Linked DNA regions of Homo sapiens: region 2 is linked to region 1. Evidence: fine-mapped expression QTL. Tissue or cell type: subcutaneous fat. Region 1 holds a variant in brackets; the other region holds the start of a gene. All regions are shown on one strand. Distances are from middle to middle.

What was found. PIP is the estimated chance that this variant, and not a neighbour inherited with it, causes the effect.
Region 2: CD33 starts here. The variant in region 1 is fine-mapped to the expression of CD33 in subcutaneous fat (GTEx, PIP 0.95).

The regions. Positions count from the first base shown.
Region 1 is chr19:51,256,264-51,262,451 of GRCh38, reverse strand. The region is part of intron 1 of SIGLECL1 (SIGLEC family like 1); the gene reads right to left. All of the region lies in intron 2 of LOC107985327 (a long non-coding RNA gene), which reads left to right. Among named protein-coding and RNA genes, the nearest start is that of SIGLECL1, 8.3 kb to the right of the region's middle. The variant C/A (reference allele first, on the strand shown) is at 2,772.
Region 2 is chr19:51,221,623-51,227,810 of GRCh38, reverse strand. It overlaps CD33 (CD33 molecule), which reads right to left and starts at 2,731. Exons shown (of 7, transcript NM_001772.4): 1 at 2,656-2,731; 2 at 2,213-2,593; 3 at 1,730-2,008; 4 at 1,455-1,502. The coding sequence starts at 2,692. All of the region lies in intron 2 of LOC107985327 (a long non-coding RNA gene), which reads left to right.

The sequences.
Region 1 (6,188 bases):
ACTAGGTTATTCATATTGAACCTAACCCAATATTTCAACATGCAATCAACACAAAATTGTTAAGATTTGGTACATTCTTTATACACTCTTCAAAATCTTGTATATATTTTACACTTACAGCACACTTCAATTCAGACTAGCCATAATATAAGGGCTCAATAGCCATATGTAGTTAGTAGCTACCACATTGGTCAGTGGAATTCTTTAATACAACATAGGAGAGTATCTTGGTAAGTTTTAGGTAAGGAAATATTTCTTTAAAAGGGCCAAAAAGCACTAGCTATGAGGAAATATGGATAAAATGGACTGTATCAGAATTAATTTCTGCATCAAAAGATACCATTAAGGAGGACAAATGCAAGTTGCAGGGCTGGAGAACATACTTGCAACACATACAACGTGCTTGCATCCAGAACATAGCAAGGATAAAGGGGGTAATGAATGGTGTAGTACATGAGTGGAGTGTTTGGGGTGTTGTTAATGTTCTATTTCTTGACCTCAGTGGTGGTTACACTGGTCTGCTCCCTTTGTGATAATTTGAGTTGTATACTTACTATCTGTATTAATACTTCTCTGTATAAAATTGTACTTTGATTTAAAAGCTTGTTTGAAAATAAAGACAGAGAAACAAACAGAAGGGATACAAAAGAGAATAGAACGGTTGGGACAAGTAGAAATCATGTACCTAGATGTTAGATTTAAACTCCAATACATCAGTGATTTAACTAAATATAAATGGCTTAAATTATCCAGTTATGAATCTAAGATCATCATATTGGAAAAAAGAAGCAAAGCCAAACTCCATGCTGTTTACAAAAGACACAACCAAAGCATAAGTGTAAAGGACAGTTAAAAAACCAAATGGGCCGGGAGCGGTGGCTCATGCCTGTAATCCCAGCACTTTGGGAGGCCGAGACGGGCGGATCACGAGGTCAGGAGATCCAGACCATCCTGGCTAACACGGTGAAACCCCGTCTCTACTAAAAATACAAAAAATTAGCTGGGTGTGGTGGCGGGCCCCTGTAATCCCAGCTACTCAGGAGGCCGAGGCAGGAGAATGGCATGAACCTGGGAGGCAGAGCTTGCAGTGAGCCGAGATCATGCCACTGCACTCCAGCCTGGGCGACAGAGCAAGACTCCGTCTCAAAAAAAGAAAAAAAGAAAAAACCAAAGAATGAAAACATACACCAAGCAAATACCAACCAGAAAGCCAGGTAATGTAGACATACCTACATTAACATCCCATAAAGCAGACTTTAAGCAAAAGGCATTACCAAAGATAGAATGGCATATCTCCTAATGATAAGCTGACATTAACAGGAATAAAGTATATATTTAAAATTTGTGTTTGCCTACTAACATAGTCCAAAAATATATAAAGCAAAAAATCTACAAAAATAAAAGGAGAAACAGACATCCACAATAGTAGTGTGACATTTTAATCACTGTTCTCTCAGAAACTGACAGAACAAACAGACTATTGGAATATATAAAGATTTCAACAACTTGATCAGCAAATTTGACCAAAAATATATAGAGAATACTGCAATCAATAACTGCAGAATACAATTTCTTTGTAAGCACACAGAGAACGTTTACAGAAATTGGCCACAGCTGGATCATAAGACAAATCTTAATAAAATTTCCATGAAAATATTTAAAATCTCATTAATAACCAGCAAAATGCCTGTTAAAACCATCAGATACCAGTACATATCCAAGACAATATATCAAGTCTTGGTGAGAATGTGGTACTCAACTTTCACACACTATTGGTGGAAATATAAATCAGGGCAACAAAGTTATTTATCAAAGCAGAAGATACACATACTCTATGACCCTCAATTCCACTCCCAGATGTATACTTTATAGAAATGTTTGTGCATATGTACGCCACAAAGGAATGCAAAAATGTTTACAGTGGTATTATTTAAAAATAGCTAAAAAGGTAAACAATCCAAATGCCAGTAAACAGAGAATTTTAAAAAATGAGATACTACACAGCAACAAAAACCTATGAGCTAATGCTAGATGCAACAACATGGACCATTCTTACAAATAAAATATTGAATGAACAAAGCCAGACACAAATAAGTAATAATGTATGAGCATTTCTTTAAAATTTGAAAAAAACCGGGCAAAATCAAGTGTTTAAGAACGCACACACAAGTAGTAAAAATCCTTTAAAAGTTGCCAAGAAATGTCCAGCATAAAAGGTAGGATATTAATTGCCTTTTTGGGAGGAAGAGGTCTGTTTCTCTGTTTATTTTATCATTTGTAGGGGGTATGAACAGGTCTTTTGAGATACTGGCTATAGTGAATTCCATAAGGCTGTACCCTATATAGGCATCCTTTTAATAGTACAGTTTCCCATTGCCCATCTGCCTGACCATATGGCCAGGCCATTGGCCACTGCCCATGAATTGGTAAAAACCCAAATGTGGAGGCAGTTCAGCCCACTGAAGTGACTTGTTTTTGCCTTCCTCAGTATGAGTGCCAGTCTTCCAAACAGGATGTTATTAATTCACTTTGGAATTGCCATCCATAAATCAAACCGCTCTTAGTTGGTCAATCAAGAGCTATTAATAGACATCATTCAAGTAATAATAGGATCTCGCAGCTCTTCAGTAGGGAAAAAGCCACCTGTTCATAAATATAACGAGGACCTCCTTGCATTTCCCTGGTAGCATGTTCCTGTATAAACAATTTCCATTTTATTACGAGACTCTTTTGGGCATGGCCTTCCTTACTACAGTGTTTTTCCAACATGA[C/A]AAACACATCATGAGGATTTCAGGTGTCAGGATTATTATATCCTTCAATGATGGGGCAGACTCAAAGCCCAATAGGCAGCTAGTTGTCTCTCCATTGGAAATTTTCTGGCCCCAAATCCCAGCATTCACCACTGGGTGGTGCTCACTGGCCTTAGCTCCAGTCTGCCTAAATAAAGCAAACGTTAAGCTTCTAACATGTTTTGTCCACCAGATATCCTGTACTGTTTCAAATTAACAATTAGTGTGGGCTTGGGCAATCTTATTGGTTCCTATTTAGCATATTCAATCAATATTGGTTGAAGGGAAGATTTACATGCCTTCTGTTTCATAATAGTACGTAGGGGAACTCTTCCATAGTTGGACACAATATCTTTCCTCATAATACATTTAGGTAAATACATTCACATAACATATTTACATAGTCTGTCCAAACATTCCAATTTTCATCCAAAGTTTCGCCTGAATCTCATCCACTTTGTAATCCTATGTCTTCGCAATCTAACCATAGATGCTATTAGAATTTCACCAACCTTTTGGAATGCAGGTATAAGACTCCCACATGAGTCCCAGAAATATCTCTTATCCATCCCCTGACTATTTTACTACTAATATGCATATGACTTTGGGTCTTCAGTTAGGGGTCAGGCCAAGCAACCCAGGCCCTTTTGTCATTTATCTTGATTAGATCACATGTTCGTCCCCTCAGGAGATCTGAGGTCAGATTTCCCATTGTCATGTTTGCCTTCTGGCTTCTAAAATTCCTCCAAACTAGGGTAAATATAGCAGACTTGATGGGGGACCTTCAACACTGGAGGGCAAGTCTAGGTTCTCACTGCTCCACCTAATTTCTAAGAGTGCTCCACTGAGACCTTTGTTTAGACTCCCTCAATGTCCACTTAACTCATCTCATTTCTTAATAACTGTTTATAAAGATTTCCACCCTCTTGGAAATGTTCGTCTTTTCTCACTCTCTGGTGAACCACTCTAATTTTCTTTGCCATCTGTCATTTCAGCCTAACTTTTCCCTTTAGCCACAGCCCTGAGGCTAGCAGCTGTAGCTCAGGCTGGCCAGAGCCCAAGATTGGGCCAGCATCAGGATCCGCCTCAGCCACTTTCATTTTAACGATTACAGATAAAAATAGCCAAGGGACTGCCTATTTAGTTTGTTTCCTTATGCATCCAGTGGGTCAGCTCCTTGGGGGTTGGATCCATTGTATTGAAAAAGCAATGGTAACTTTTACCTCCTGTAACTGTTTGCAGAACAGCTGCATTTCTATACGCACAGGTGACCGCAGGACAGCCCAGGAATCAAAGGCTTATCATCTTGACTTCACATCCTTCCTCTTTTCAAACCATATGTTTCAGTGAGTCAGGGCTGTTCTAGTGAATCCCATTTCTGATACAACTGAAAAGTTAGGGAATGGTCCACAAGATCCCCTCATTTCTGACACCAACTGAAGATATCAAGGATCCCTGATTACCCTCATTTCTCAAATCATTTGCAAGGTTTTGGAACCCCAAAACTACCCTTAGGTTTGGTAATTCACTAGAAGTACTCACAGAATTCACTGAAAGCTGTTATACTCGTGATTACTGTTTACTACAACTAAAGGATAGAGATTAAAATCAGCCAAGGGAAGACATACAGGGCAGAGGCCAGAAGTTCCCCACACAAAGCTTCTAGTTATCCTCTCCCTGTGGAGTCATGGACAGCATAACTTAGCTTTCCTGGTGATAATGTGTGACAATATGCATAGTACTGTCAACTAAAGAAGCTCACCCAAGCCTTGTGTCCAGTGTTTTTATTGGGCCTCCATCGTGTAACATGGTGACTTCCCTCATGGTGGATCTTAGCATCCAGCTCCTCCTGAAGTTGAGCTGATACCATTTGATCCAAAGCCCCTATTCTAAATCACATTGTTAGACTATCTGGTATTGCTTCCACTCTAAATCACATTGTTAACATTATCTGGTGTGGCCAGCCCTCATCCTAAATCACATTTCTAGAATATTCAGTGTGATGCAAGGTCCCTGGGCAAACAAAGACACCCCTATGAGGTGTGACATTCTAAGAGCTAGGGAGTGTCTTCCAGAAGCCAAGGGCAAAGGCCAGACTTCTCTTCAGGCAAGGTTAAGTTCCTTAGTACACAGAATAAAATGTCAAATTCAGAATAGCAGCGATCTCTATGTTTGAGAGTGGGAGATGTGTTTGGGGAAGGGAGTATACCAGGGGTAGTGTTTTCTTTCTTTTCTTTTCTTTTTTTTTTTTTTGAGACAGTTTCTTGCTCTGTCACCCAGACTGGATGGAGTGCAACGGAGCATTCACAGTTCACTGCAGGCTTGACCTCCCAGGCTCAAGCAATCTTCCCACCTCAGCCTCCCAAGTAGCTGGGACTACAAGCATGTGCCACCATGCCTGACTAATTTTTTAATTTATGTAGAGATGGGATCTTGTTATGTTGCCCAGGCTGGTCTTGAACTCCTAGGCTCAAGCCGTCCTCCCACCTGGGCTTCCTAAAGTGCTAGGATTACAGGTGTGAGCTACCGTGCCCAGCCAGTGTTTTCAATATTAAGCTGGTGGTGGGTATATGCTCATTATACCATATTTATATCTTTCTATATGTCTGAAATATTTCACAATCTTTAAATGAAAACTGGATCATTTGTCATTTATATAAAAGCTTTATATATATAATATGTAAATATGTATCTACATATTCATATATAATACACTCAAAACTATACATACATGAATGAGTAAAACAAAGATCTAGAATGATGTATAATTTGATACCAGTGCTTACCTATGGTTAGAGCAGTGATCAGAGATGAGATTATAGAATTTTCAGTTTTTTAATTCCAGGTTTATTGAGGTATAACTGACAAATAAAAATTGTATATACTTAAGGTGTACGACATGACGTTTTGATGTATGTATGCACTGTGGAATGATTACCACAATCCAGTGAATTAACATAATCAGCACTTCACAGTTACCATTTTTTTGGTGGTGAGAACACTTAATATTTACTGTCACAAAATTTCAAGTATACAGTACAGTGTTATTTACCATAGTCACCATGGTGCACATGAAACCTCCAGAACTTATTCATTCTGCCTAGCTGAAACTTTGTGCCCCTTGATCAATATCTCATTTCCCTTAGCCCTCAGCCCTGGCAACCACCATTCTATACTTTGCTTCCATGCGTTTGACTTTCTTAGATTCTACATATAAGTGAGATCATGCAGTACTTGTCTTTCTGTGTCTGACTTGTTTCACATAGCATAATGTCTTTCAGGTTTATTTACGTTGCTGCAAATGGCAAGATGTCCTTTTTTAAGGCTGAATAACTTCCACTGTGTGTGTATGTGTGTGTGCACAATAAATCCTCACTTAACATCATCATTCAGTTCTTG
Region 2 (6,188 bases), 35 kb after region 1:
CTTTAGGACATTGGTCTGGAAAAATATTTTATGAGTAAGACCTCACTAGCACAAGCAACAAAAGCAAAAGTAAATAAATGAGATGATATCAAGCTAAAAAGCTTCTATGCAGAAAGGAAACAACCAACAGAGTGAAAAGGCAACCTACAGAATAGGAGAAAATATTTGTCAGCTATTCATCTGACAAGTGATTCATATCCAGAACATACGAGGAACTCATACATCTCAATGGCAAAGAAACCCAATCTCATTTAAAAATGGGCAAATTATCTGAGTAGACATTTCTCAAGAAAAGATATACAGATGGCCAACAAGTGTATATGAAAAATGCTCAACGTCACCAATCACCAGGGAAATGCAAATCAAAACCACAATGAGGTAACATCACCCCAGTTGGGAGGACTATGATAAAAAAAAGATGAAAATTAACAAATGATGGTGAGGATGTAGAGAAGAGGGAACTCTTATATACTTTTGACCAGAATGTAAACTAGTATAACCACTATGGAGAAGAGTATGGAAGTTTCTCAAAAAACTACAAATAGAACTACCATATGATCCAGCAACCCCACTACTGGGCATTTATAGAAAGGAAAGGAAATCAGTATATTGAAGAAACGTCTGCACCTCAATGTTTATTGCAGCATTATCCACAATAGGAAGATATGAAATAAACCTAAGTGTCCAACAACAGATGAATAAATAAAGGAAATGTGGCGTATATACACAATGGATTATCATTCAGCCATAAAAAATAATGAAATCTTGTTATTCACTATAACATAGATTGAACTAGAGGACATTATGTTAAATGAAATAAGCTAGGAACAGAAAGTTGAATACCACATGTTCTCACTCATAAGTGGAAGCTACAAGAAGTTGATTTCATAGAAGTAAAAAGTAGAACAGAGAATAATAAGGGCTGGGAAGGTTAGGGGAACAATGATAAGGAGAGAGATTTGTTAAAGGATACTAGATTACACCTGGAAAGGAAGAATAAGTTCTGGTGTTCTATACCACTGTAGGATGACTATGCTTAACAATAATAGATAGCTTCAAATAGCTAGAAAGGGGATATTGAATGTTCCCAACAACAATGAAATAATAAATGTTCAAGATGATGGATATGCTATTACCCTGATCTGATTACTATACATTATTAGTATGGAAACATCACTATGCCATCCATAAATATGTACTATTATTACATATCAATTAAAAATAAAATACCCCAAGACATTCAGAGACAGGAGGGAGACAAAGAGCATTATTTGGATGGGCAAGGGGGAAGTTGCTAGTCATCCCCAAATATCCTTTTCCAAGGTGCCTGATGTCTACCCGTGTCTAACTGCAGGCCTTGCCTCTGAACATTTGACTCTGAAAGTCCAGATCTGACCAAACCTGACACAGACTCAATGTCAGTAACAGCCCCAGGCGGGGAGGCTCCTTCCTACCTGAGCCATCTCCTGGAAAGATACCAGTTGTTGGGTTCTGTGGAACATCTAGGAGAGGAAGAGAGGATTTCCTTCAGTTGGGGGTAGAGATGAGATAAGGGTAGGCATTTCCCCTTACTCCTGCCAGAAACCACAGAAATGCAGAAGGGACAGGGCTCATGTCCTTCTGGCTCCCGAACTCAGCCAGGCCTCCAGGACACTAAATGTCCCCAGCACCAGCCCATCCTGTCTCCCCTACACCCTCAGGGACCCCAGCATCCTGGCCCAGCACTTACAGGTGACGTTGAGCTGGATGGTTCTCTCCGTAGTCACACCAGCTCCAGCGAACTTCACCTGACAGGTCAGGTTGGTGCCGTGGTCCTGGGGCCGTGGGGTGATTATGAGCACCGAGGAGTGAGTAGTCCTGGGGCCCAGGGAGGTGGGGGCAGCTGACAACCAGGAGAAGATCGGGGGTGTTCCCTGCTCACAGGCCCAGGACACAGAGCAGGTCAGGTTTTTGGAGTGGCCGGGTTCTAGAGTGCCAGGGATGAGGATTTTGGGCCTGTGGGTCAAGTCTAGTGAGGAGAAAGAGGGGATGCAGAATCAGGAGGGAGGGTCCAGGTGAGGGCCTGAGAGAAGATCAACCTCTGGTCAAGCTCCCCCGCTAAGCACGACAGGCTTTACCCCTAAACCCCTCCCAGTACCAGGGTCCCATCCCAGCCCTGCCCTGCAGTACCCATGAACTTCCCTTGCGGCCACTTCTGAAGCCTGTGCCTCACCTGTCACATGCACAGAGAGCTGGGGAGATTTGTAACTGTATTTGGTACTTCCTCTCTCCATCCGAAAGAAGTATGAACCATTATCCCTCCTCCTGGCGTCTACGATGCTCAGGGAGCAGTTGTTCCTACTGGGATCCCCAAGGAGGCGGAATCTGCCCTGAGTCTCCTCCTGTACTTCTTGATCTAGCTTGTTTGTGGCCACTGGAGAGTCCCTGGATATAATGGCTCCTTCCCGGAACCAGTAACCATGAACTGGGGAGTTCTTGTCGTAGTAGGGTATGGGATGGAAGAAAGTGCAGGGCACGAGGACGCACAAACCCTCCTGTACCGTCACTGACTCCTGCACTTGCAGCCAGAAATTTGGATCCATAGCCAGGGCCCCTGTGGGGAAACGAGGGTCAGCTCGGCCCAGCCCGACAACCCCTCTCCCCACAGCCACTCACCTGCCCACAGCAGGGGCAGCAGTAGCAGCAGCGGCATGTCTGAGGAAGCAGCTTCCAGGGCTTCCTGTGTGAGCAGAAAAGAGGAAGGGAGTGGAGGGGAAGGACTACAGGGCCGGACAGGAAGCTGGGGAGGAGCAGGAGACCTCAGCCCTGCATGGAAGAGGAACCTCAGACCCACACATGCTCAGAGCTTGTCCCCTCCACACAGATTGACCCTCATGGGCCAGAGATGCCAGAGACCCGCCCAGAGATGGGAGGAGATGGAGCAGAATCTGAGTCTTGCCTTCCAGGAGCACCAGAGCCTGGATCAGTACCTTCAGGGCCATCTGAGACATGCGAACCCCATGTCTAAAGTCCTTCCACTCTGAGGTGCTTTTCTGTGCACAACTGTTTACACCAGGGCTGATCACTGCTGGCCTGGCCCGAGTCGCAGCCTCACCTAGATCCATGGGGTGTTTAGTCCAGCAGGATATAGGATTCTATAGGGTCCGTGTGAGTGTCTGGGGCAGAGAAACAAAGAAGAGTCCTAGGTAAAGTGAAGGTGGCAGCCATTCATTTATTCATTCATTCACTAAAGATATAGTGAGTGACAGAGCAGGAGCACCGTCATCTCGGAGAAACACTGCCTCTTTAAGTTCCAATTTCCTTTCTAGCCTCATGCATTTCAAGGAAATCACTTCTCTGCTAACTACAAGCAACCAGAAAGAGCAGACAGTGAAACACAGATAAGACAGCTCGGGCACAGAGGGAGGTAGGGGGAGAGTCTCTTGAGTTACTGCCAAACTTCACCCTCATACAATGGCCCTAGTAAAACAGTGGGCCTTAATAAGCAAATTCCTTTCCCTTCAGGTGCACTAAGATAGGGAAGCTAAAAGCAGACTCAGTGGGTATGCCTGTAGCTGCAGAAAGATGTATGGGTACAGACACACACCTCTCTCTCCCAGATAAGCACAACAAAGAGACTCAGAAGCAGTCCAAGTCTCTGATAAACTCTCCCACCCTAAATCCTTAAAAACTCTTAGTCTGTAAGAGAGTGTGCCTCTGACTTAACTCGGCCAGAAACTCCTCTCAGGTTTGTTTTCTCTAAAATCTGTCTTGACTGGTGAGCCACCATTCGTGTTTCTTTCCTCTTTCTTTAATTCTTACAGTGAGCCTTTGTGTATAGGTGGGGCTTGAGAAGAGATGCCACTGACCTGATTCCTGCCCTTAAGATACTCCCCATCCATAGCCTCATGTCCTCACCACACACACACATGCTGTCTGGCTTTAGAGCTGTGAAAAGTTGGGAATTTGCCATGTATCATGGTAGCATATTGGAAATTTTAAAAGAAATATGACTATAGAATTTTCCCCTGGCACCTAGTACACTGATTTGCACAGTGTCAATGACATCTCCAAAACAAGAACCATGCAGCATCTTCCTGTGAAACAAAAGGGAGAACACATGTTCTATGAACCAGTGCAGAAAAAACTTCTTTTCCATTCATGCTGCCATTTGGTTCAGTGTGGGCAGAAGCAAGTTTTTTTAGAGGCTCATCATATGGATCAACATTTTCTTTCATGTAAAAATCTGCTTCTCACAGTTAAATATGGCCCAAAGACATAATATTTCCAGACAACATGAGTGGAGTGTACAGAGAAAATTAAACTTTAGGTCCAGCTACATGGTTTTCCATATCACTCTGTGTAGTATGCATCCAGCAAACCGTTGATCCCTGGGACATATTAGTACTTGCCACCATACCTTTGTCAAATCTCTACACACAATAGTATCTAGATAACTCTTCATTCATCCTTACTAATAGAGAGGTAGCTGCATCCTCATTTGATATACAACAAATTAAGTCTCCAGTAAATAATATCTGTTGTAAGTTATTTAAATATTTAGCATGTGGCACGTAATAGAAAATTCAATACATTTAGTGCTTTTTTTTTTAAGACAGGGTCTTGCTTTGTTGCCCAGGCTGGAGTGCACCGGCCTGACCACAGTTCACTGCAGCCTTGACCTCCCAGACTCAAGTGACTCTCCCACGTCATCCTCTCTAGTAGCTGGGATCACAGGCTCATACTACCAGGCCGGAGTAACTTTTTGTTTTTATGTTTAGGAGAGATGGGGTCTTGCTATGTTCCCCCAGGCTGATCTTGAACTCCTGGGTTCAAGCAATCCTCCCACCTCGACCTCCAAAGTGCTTTGACTATGGGCATGAGGCACTGTGCCCAGCCACATTTAGTTTTAACAATAAAGTCATACTATGTTCATGGACCAGAAGATCAAATATGAATATGTGAGTCTTACTGTGTTTCTTTAATGAATTTAATTAGGTATAATTTACATGAAATAAAGCACACCTACTTGAAGTTCACATTTGCATGAGATTTGACGAGTATGTACAGCCTGTATACTCACCACACTGCAGATATACAGCATTTCTAGTATGCCAAGGGCTTTTCTTCCCACCTTCTATGCTGGGCAACCACTGATATGTCCTCTTTCATTGTGAGTTAGTCTATTTGAAAATCTCCTAGAGATGTGTTAATTTGTGTCTGTATCCTATGACCCAGCATAATATTTTTTGAAACTGAACCACGTTGTTTGTGTCTGTATTTCAAAATGTGATATTGTTAAGTAGTATTCCATTTATGTGTATACTATAATGTTTTATTTCTCACCTATTGATAGACAAGGATTTTCCAGTTTTCTCCCTACAGGTATTCAGGTACAAGTCTTTTTACATACATGGTTTTATACTAATTGGTATACACAGGAAGATAAATAGTCAGACTAATGACTACTTGTAAGTTTAACCTTAGTAGGAATTGCCAAACTGTTGTCCAAAATGGTTTTGACTTTTTACCACTCCTCCTAGCCATGTGCCAGAATTCCAGTAGCTCCACACCCTTGTCGACGTATGATACTGTCCTGCTTTATATTTGAACAATTCTAGTGAGAGCATAGTGGCATCCAGTGTTTTAAATTTTTTAATTTATTTAAAGTTAGATACAGTTGAATTAACTCTTTATCATATGCAATTTTGATATGGTTTGAGAGTTGTATATAATTATATACCCACAACCACTGTGAAGACACTGAAGAGTGTCATTAACCAAACGTTCCTTCCTCCTGTCTCTGGGTAGTCAACCCTCCCTCCACACTTAGTCCATGAAAAAATGCTGATATGTTTTCCATCCCTACTGTATTGCCTTTTCACAGAATGTCGTATAAATGGAATCATACAAAATGTTGCCTCCAAAGTCTGGCTTCATTTACTTGGTGCAGTGCCTCTGAGGTTCAATCATGTGGTTGAGTGTATGAATCTATAGTTTGTTCCCTTTAATTGCTGACTCGTAACTCACTGTTTTTATGGACCCCCCATTTTGTATGCATTTACCATTTGAGGAGCATTCAGATTGTTTTCAGGTTTGGGTGACTATGAAATAATGTTGTTATAAATATTGGCATGCAGGTTTCTGTGTGTAACTGTAAGTTTTTATTGCTCTTGGGTAAATACTTAGGAGTCAGGTGCCTGGTCCTA